3 separate regions of the Homo sapiens genome follow, and all the other regions are linked to region 1. Evidence: fine-mapped expression QTL. A gene starts in region 1. Each other region holds a variant in brackets. All regions are shown on one strand. Distances are between the middles of the regions. Region 1 holds the start of RNGTT (RNA guanylyltransferase and 5'-phosphatase). Region 2 overlaps RNGTT (RNA guanylyltransferase and 5'-phosphatase). Region 3 has its middle 360 kb from the start of RNGTT.

What was found.
Region 2: its variant is fine-mapped to the expression of RNGTT in neutrophils (Naranbhai 2015, PIP 0.95).
Region 3: its variant is fine-mapped to the expression of RNGTT in whole blood (TOPMed, PIP 0.94).

The regions. Positions count from the first base shown.
Region 1 is chr6:88,961,993-88,964,759 of GRCh38, reverse strand. RNGTT (RNA guanylyltransferase and 5'-phosphatase) reads left to right here and starts at 1,142. Exons shown (of 16, transcript NM_003800.5): 1 at 1,142-1,414. The coding sequence starts at 1,351. RefSeq lists a silencer at 845-1,079 and enhancers at 1,063-1,442, 1,797-2,723.
Region 2 is chr6:88,930,121-88,932,887 of GRCh38, reverse strand. The region is part of intron 2 of RNGTT (RNA guanylyltransferase and 5'-phosphatase); the gene reads left to right. Among named protein-coding and RNA genes, the nearest start is that of RNGTT, 32 kb to the left of the region's middle. The variant TA/A (reference allele first, on the strand shown) is at 1,700.
Region 3 is chr6:88,601,514-88,604,280 of GRCh38, reverse strand. No RefSeq gene overlaps it. Among named protein-coding and RNA genes, the nearest start is that of RNGTT, 360 kb to the left of the region's middle. The variant T/C (reference allele first, on the strand shown) is at 1,145.

The DNA of each region.
Region 1 (2,767 bases):
GTTCTGTCAGGGGAGGAGTTTACACCTTCACTAACAGTTCTGAGCAGATGCAACAGCAGGACAGACCAGAAGTGTGACCTAACTCAGGCTGCCTCAGAGAGATTGCTGTTGGACTGCCTCTATTGATGGGACTCTTACTGAGGGGGTCCAGGCATTCAGGGGGTTGAGCGTCCCAGAAAGTTCCCCACCGACGCTTTAAAAATGTATTCCCTGCAGCCTTACGTTCTTGCAGTTCCAATATAGCATTGGTGTTTAAAGCCAAACTACATTATAATTGATTCGCCATCATCCAGCTTTATATTTAACACTTTAATCTGGTAACAAAGGAAAGGCTCGTTAAAGGACGGCATTTATAAAAATTTTTCAAGCACCTCTGCTTAACTCGAAGGGAAAATAAAAGGCACTGTTTATTTGGTAGGCCAAGGAGAACAACGCCACGAAGAGGTTCTCCACTGATCAATTCCTACCTTTGTCAATTATACCACATTAATTAGTAACTTTTTTTGGAGACATGGACCCTCTCAAACTCCCCAGTATGCTTTGAAACTTTGATCCAGAAATGTACAAACAAAACTCTAAGTGTTCTGGAATTAATTTCAGAAGCTTCATAGATCCTCGTAAGTACTCACCAAAAGAAAAATTCCCCATTTCTGGTACTCCAATCTCATGTCCTTAGAATTCTCCTAAGACTTGTTCCCTTGAACAACTTTCCCTAATTGCAAATCAAACCTAGATCCGGCTGGGACGCCAAGCTTGAGCTGTGGTAACGCTCAGAAGGCCTCTTTTCATCAGTAAAATAGATGCCTTAACGGAAGTGGCGGGCAATCTACGCATGGAAAGGCGCTTGGCTTCCCTCTTTTTTGGGTTTCTCTAGGTTGTCTGGATGGGAAAAAAATACACGCTTCGTCCTGCGGAGTTCGGTACGAGGGCAATTGCACATGCGCAAAGGCGAACCAGTAGCGTCCGGGCGCGTCCGTGGAGCGGGACGGGGCGGGGCGGGGCGGTGCCGAGTGGGGCGAGAGAAGGCCCGCTCCTCCCATTCGTCGCGTCCTTAACTCTTTGCTATCCTTCCGCTGAGCTTCCTCTTCTTTCCCTCTGACCTCGGAAAGGGGGCGGGGCTTTCGGGGGCGGAAGTTGCGGTGCATTGTGGGTTCTCCTGGAGCTGTGGAGTTGATCCTGAATGAAAGTGGCGCGCCGCCCCTGACGTTACCCGGATCGGAGAGGTTGGAATTCAGATTACGGCTGCGATTCGGGTGTCTCGGACCCCGGTGTGCACCGGACCACGGGGAGGCGGCTCCAAAGGCGCGGTGAACGTTGGTGAGGGAGGGCAGCTCTGCGCAGCCCCAAGACATGGCTCACAACAAGATCCCGCCGCGGTGGCTGAACTGTCCCCGGCGCGGCCAGCCGGTGGCAGGTAACCTGGACTGGGGGGCGTTCGAATCCCCACACTCCAACGTGCCCGGGGGTGGGCCGACTGAGGAGCTCAGCTTTTGGTGGTTCTGTGCCCATTAGTGGTATTTCAGGAGCGGGATATGCTCCGTCGGATTACGCTTCGTGGATGAATGGGAACATGAACGGGAGGGGATGGTCGGCGGATGGGGGGCACTTGTTACTATTCCTGCAAGGCTAACTGTGCGAATGTGAAGGTAGACAGGAGGTTGGTGGCAGGAGGTGAGGATCCAGGAATACAGTGGGCGTACTTTGAGTCTTAGTAGTTTGCGAACCTGTTAGGGTTCAACCTTCCCCTCGAAAGAAGGGATGAATATCAGTATTGAGATGGAGGAGGGTTAAGGAGGGAAGGGGCGGTTCCCAGCGGTGAAATGGGGTCACATTGAGACTGGGAATCTGGAGGGTGTTTTTGTTAGTTTTTTATTTTTATTTTCTTGTGAGACAGGGTCTCTTGCTCGGGCTGGGGATCCTCCCACCTCAGCCTCCCAAGTAGCTGGGACTACATGCTCCTGCCACCGCACCCGGCTAATTTTTTTATTTATTAAAGTATATATATATTTATAATGTATATATTTGAGACATAGTCTCTCTCTGTCGTCCAGGCTGGAGTGCAGTGGCGTGATCTCGGCTCACTGCCTCAGCCTCCCAAGTAGCTGGGATTACAGGCGCGTGCCACCACACCCGGCTAATTTTTGTTTTTAGTAGAGACAGGGTTTCATCGTGTTGACCAGGCTGGTCTCCAACGCCTGGCCTCAAGTGATCCGCCCGCCTCGGCCTCCCAAAGTGCTGGGATTACAGCCGTGAGCCACTGTGCCTGGCCATAATTTTTTTGTTTATTTTTTGTGGAGACAGGGTTTCACTGTGTTGCCCAGGCTGGTCTTGAACTCGTGGACTCAAGCGATGCTCCCACTTCGGCCTCCCAAAGTGTTGGGATTATAGGCGAGAGCCACCCCGCTTGGCCGGGTTTTTGTTTTTTTTAATTATTTTTCTTGTAGTTTTTTTCATCTTTATTGAGCTTGAATACAATAAGCTTTAAAGCGTACAGTTTGATAAATTTTGACTGTATATACACAAATATATCTCTTTCCTAGGAAACAACCATGAAACCCCTCAAAGTTTCCTCTTGCCCCTTTTTAAATCCCTCCTTCGCCTGGCAGCCACTGATCTGCTTTCTGTAATTATAGATTGGTTTGCATTTTCTAGAAATTTTTAAATAAATGGAAACATATAGTGAGTACTCTTCTTGGGGTGGAAGGAAGTGTGTGTGGCTTTTTTCACTCAGCATAATTAATTTGATACTCATCCAGATTATGCATGT
Region 2 (2,767 bases), 32 kb after region 1:
ATGAGGTGGAAGATGTATGAATTTACTATTACTTTTTTTTAGCCTCAGTTTAGGTGTGCGTTTCTAAGTGAGACTATCTTGCTGGCTGATTGTGATTCTAGGTTTTAAAGATTTTTCATACTGAAGGGCCCTGAATGCAAATCAACTTCTTCAGCTCAACAGAAGTAATAATGGTTTTTGTTCCAATCCAGAAAGAAAAATTGGCTATAATCTGTTGGGGGAACCAGCCCCCAATATTTCAACGTAGGTTCTTTTCTATTTTCCCTAAATGTCGGCCGGTCTGAGAAATAAAGGGAAAGAGTACAAAAGAGAGAAATTTTAAAGCTGGGTGTCCAGGGGAGACACATGTCAGCAGGTTCCGTGATGCCCCCTGAGCCGCAAAACCAGCAAGTTTTTATTAGCGATTTTCAAAGGGGAGGGAGTGTACGAATAGGGTGTGGGTCACAGGGATCACATGCTTCATAGGGCAATAAAAGATCACAAGGCAGAAGGTCAGGGTGAGATCACAAGGTCAGGGCGAAACTAGAATTACTAAGGAAGTTCCCTGTCCCACTGTGCACACGTTGTCACCGATAAACATCTTAACAGGGTTCAAGAGCAGAGAACCGGTCTGACTAGAATTTGCCAGGCTGGAATTTCCTAATCCTAGCAAGCCTGGGGGTGTGCAGGAGACTAGGGTGTGTTTCATCCCTTATCTGCAACTGCAGACCCTCCTAGAGCGGCCATTTTAGAGGCCTACTCCTGGGAATACATTCTTTTCCCAGGGCTGTTAATTATTAATATTCCTTACTGGGGAGAGAATTCAGTGATATTTCTCTTACCTGTTTTTGGCAATAAGGGAAATATGGCTCTGTCCTGCCTGGCTCCCAGGCAGTTAGACCCAATGGTCATCTCCCTTGTTCCCTGAACATTGCTGTTATCCTGTTCTTTTTTTCAAGGTGCCCAGATCTCACGCTGTTCAAACACACATGCTTCATGAAAAATCTGTGCAGTTAACACAATCATCACAGGGTCCTGAGGCCACATACATCCTCAGCTTACGAAGATGATGGGATTAAGAGATTAAAGTAAAGACAGGCATAGGAATTTTACAATTTATATTCTTCTGCCATGGCTTCAGCCGGTCCCTCTGTTAGGGGTCCCTGACTTCCCGCAACAATGGTTGACTTATTGAGATGGGATTAAGCCTCCAGTAATATGCATATGGCCATGTATACTGTTCTTCATTGGTTACTTAAGGAATTTATGAGAGAATTTTGACTGTACATACTTTTTTACCCTATGTGTTAGAATTTAACTGCCCAAGGTGTGATTCTTAGGCATCACATGGTACCTAAAAATCATAGTGATTTTTGTCATTTTAGAAATAGACAATACGTTCACTTACTTCAAAAATCCACAAAAAAAGGTTGGTATCATGAAGTCTCCCTCTCACTTTTGCTCTCTATCTGCCTAGTCCCTCACCACATACCACACAGGTTCCACTGTTTTTAGATTTTTTAATACATCCTTTCAGAATTTCTTTATGTGTATGTAAGCAACTAAAAATACAGATTGCTGTGTTCTCCCCTGCACACTCAAGGTAGCACATTATATATGCTGGTCTGAAACTTGCATTTCCAGCTTAATAGTATACTCTGAAGATCTTCATATATTAGCACATAGAACTTCTTGTTCTTTTTTTTTTTTTTTTTTTTTT[TA/A]CAGCTTTATAGTATTCCATTAAAGTATGTACAGGTTGAGCATCCCTCATCCAAAAATATAAAATCTGAATCTTTTTTAGCACCTACATGATGCCCAAAGGAAATGCTTATTGGAACATTACAGGTTTTGGATTTTCATATTAGGATTGCTCAACCTGTAAGTATAATGCAAATATTGAAAAATCTGAAATCTTGAACACTTCAAGTCCCAAGCATTTCAGTTTAGGGAATCTTCTTACTACTTTACTTGGATGGTTTCTTTATGGAACTGGAAAATGTGTGCTGACATTTTCTGAAATTTACCAGCATGGGGTCATTTTTACTGCTTTTGTGTGTCTTCATTGCATTTTCCCCCTTGTATTGCTTCTGCTTCCCTGTAATCTGCCCCATCTTCTCCAGACTCCTTAGCTCTTGGGTAGATGAGAGATAGGTCTGCCACTTTATGGTGAGCTCTTTCTTACCGGAAATGTATTTTTATTGGCATTTTCCTAAAATCTGCTGCTCCTGGGTCTGCTTCTCTTTTCTTCCTTTCCATATAGCTTCTGTAGTGTTCTTAATTTTTTGGCAGAACTTAGACATTTTTTATGAATGTGTGGATTTTATATGCGTTCGTTTTACAGAAAATGAAACTTTTTTTTAAACAATTTACCTTGTTTTTATATGATACTGAAAGAATAGGAGAGGAAAATTTATTTAATTTTTTAATCTTTTTCCCCCCAAACACATGGTTTTTCAAGCGATCCTCTTGCCGTGGCCTCCCAAAGTGCCAAGATTACAGGCGTGAGCCACTGTGTCTGGCCAAATTTCCCGTACTACCATCTTCTTAATAAGATTGTCTCTATTTTTAACCTTGTTTCTTTTCAAAAAATGTAACTTGAGGCTTCAGTATATTTTCAGAAAATAGAAGAGTTGTTAATAACAAAGAAAGGGACATATATATAAAATATATATAATAAGATACATGTTTTATATGTATATATGTATATATGTTTATGTATATATGTATATACATATATGTATATGTATATATGTATGTACGTATATGTATATGTATGTATACGTGTATA
Region 3 (2,767 bases), 360 kb after region 1:
GGGAGTAAGAAGGAAGAGCTGATGTGGGGCTGGGAGGAATAAAGGGCTTCAGAGCGTGATGAACTGGAGATGCCTTCAGGAGCATCAGATGGAACTGTCGAGGGGAGAATTTAGAACTGGAGCTTAGGCAGTCAGACTGCTGGCAAGATTTCAAGTCTGTCCACACAACAGCAATGGTAAAAGCAGTCAGTAGGAGGTATGAAGTAAAAAGAGGACTAGGGACCCCCACATCTGTGGGTATAAGAAAAAAATATAACCAGCAAAGAAAAGGCATCCAGAAGTAAGGAAAAGAAATTAAAGTCAAGAAGTAAAATGACACTCAAGAAGGTGCCGGCCCCCAGAGCTACAAGACAAAAGTTTTTTGATAGTGGAGGCAGAAAATAGTTCTGACTGCTCCAGGGAAGTCCTGGAGAGCCAAGGACTGAGAAAAGGACCTCGAATTTGGTTTCTAGGTGACCTGCAGAAGCATGATAGGGATGGCTGAAGTCGAGTGTTGATGAAAAGAGTCAGACTCTGTAAAATATTTTTAAAGATCTATTCGGAGCCAAATATGAGTGACCATGGCCCGTGACATAGCCCTAGGAGGTCCTGAGAACATGTGCCCGAGGTGGTTGGGGCACAGCTTGGTTTTATATATTTTAGAGAGGCATGAGACGTCAATCAAATACATTTAAGAAATACATTGGTTTGGTTCAGAAAGGCGGGACAACTCAAAGTGGGGAGGGGCATCCAGGCTATAGGTAAATTTAAACATTTTCTGGTTGACGATTGATTGAGTTTATCTGAAGACCTGGGATCAATAGAAAGGAAATGTTCAGGTTAAGATAAAGGATCGTGGAGACCAAGTTTTATTGTGCAGAGGAAGCTCTTAGCAGACTTCAGAGAAACAGCAGGTTGTAAAATCTTTCTTATCAGACCTAAAACGGTGCCTGGCTCTTAGTTATCTCCTGGATCTGGAAGGGAAGGGAGGAAAACAAAGGGGAAAAGTGATTCTCCATAGAATGTGGATCTTTCCCACAAGAGACTTTGCAGTGCTGTTTCAAGGTATGGCAAGGAAACATATTTTGGGGTTGAATATTTTGATTTTTTTTCCCTGTCTCATAATGTTATGCCAGAGTCAGACTGGTAAGTAAGTCATGATATA[T/C]AGAGTCAGATAAAACCCATCTGATGAGAATTTGTGGTTTGTAGGGCATGACTCCCTAGATCCCTTAGATAGGAATTTGGGCGAGATAAAAAAGTCAGAGCTTAGTCCTCACAAGAAAAATGAGAAAATAGGAGGAAATGGAGGTGATGGGGTTTGGAGTTAAATCTATGTCAACAGATGGATTAATACTCCCAAGGGTAGTGGGAGTATTGCCAGAGCTTTCCAACCACTGTCTCGAGACACCCTGCCATGTCGCCAGGGAGTTGTAGATGTCGATTTTCTCAGCCCACAGGGGTGGCCAGGATCTCTACCTACAGCCAAGGGATGCCTCTGGGCTCCCGACGGGGAGCACCCCGGGGCCCCTGGAGGCAAAAGCACAATGACCAACATCAGATACATAAAGTCTACATTTGTTCTCCACCATGGAGACTGGACGAGGCCAGCTGCAAGGCGTGACACTGCCCATTCTGGACAAGGGGCTCATAGAGCTACTGGGCACACGACCCAGGGTGTGGCTGATCAGAAAAGGGTGCCTGGGAGTCTGGGAAGGGCCCTAGAGGGTGGCACCAAGTCTCTGCCTTCACCTGTGACAGACCATTTTGGTGTCATTCATTTGGGTTACTGGGAGACTGACTGAACAATGCATGCACATGCTGCACATCCGGGCCTCATCATTATTTGGAAATAATTGATGTAAATAATATCGTTGGACTGGAAATCCATTTGTGTTATCACAAGAAATGTCAGTGAGAAATCACAAGAAATTTGTAGAAATGAGAAAAAGAAAAAGTAGATTCTTTAAATATAATTTCAACCATTGATATTTTTGAAAGGTTGCAAAAAATAGTTTTAATTTTTTCATCACCCACATGTGCAAGGTTTCTCATTGATAGTAACTACAAAGCATTTGAAGATACTATGATTCAGAAGTTTTGATTAGGATTTGAGGACAGCCATTTGAAGCATTAAGCCTGATGTTTAAAAAGGCATGTTCATGGACACAAGTTCAGGTTTCAGACTTAACATTTTAAAAATGTTTTATTTCAGAGTTTCCTACAAAGCCATATCTTCTCTGGGACTTTGTATTTTACTTTGTCTTATCACAATTATGTAAAGAAAATGTAATGAACCTTTTCCCCTCAACACTCACTTAGACACCCTAATTCTTTAGTTTACCCCAGGGTGGCATTCACATATTATCGTTTTCTATGTTTGCCATATTATGAAAAGGACTAAGAGGCATTGTTCTGATGGCTCAGGATTGAAGAATGGCAAGGTGAGAACAGAAGAAAGTTGAGAAGGTGAGGAACTTTACAACCCATACTGGGTAAGAAATCAAGTCGAGTCAGAAAGGGATGATAGCGGGGTGCATGGGATCTGATCCCAAGATCAGAAAGTACAGCTGGCTCCAAAAAGGTGAGGGAGAGTGGGGACTGAGATTGGCAAGGCACCTGTCTTAGTCCATTTTCTGTTGCTTATAACAGAACACCTGAAACAGGGTAATTTATAAGGAAAATGAATTTGTTTCTCACAGTTCTAGAGGCTGAGAAATCCAAGGTCAGGGGGCAGCATCGAATGAGTGCCTTCTTGCCTGTAGGACTCTTTGAAGAGTCCCAAGGCGAT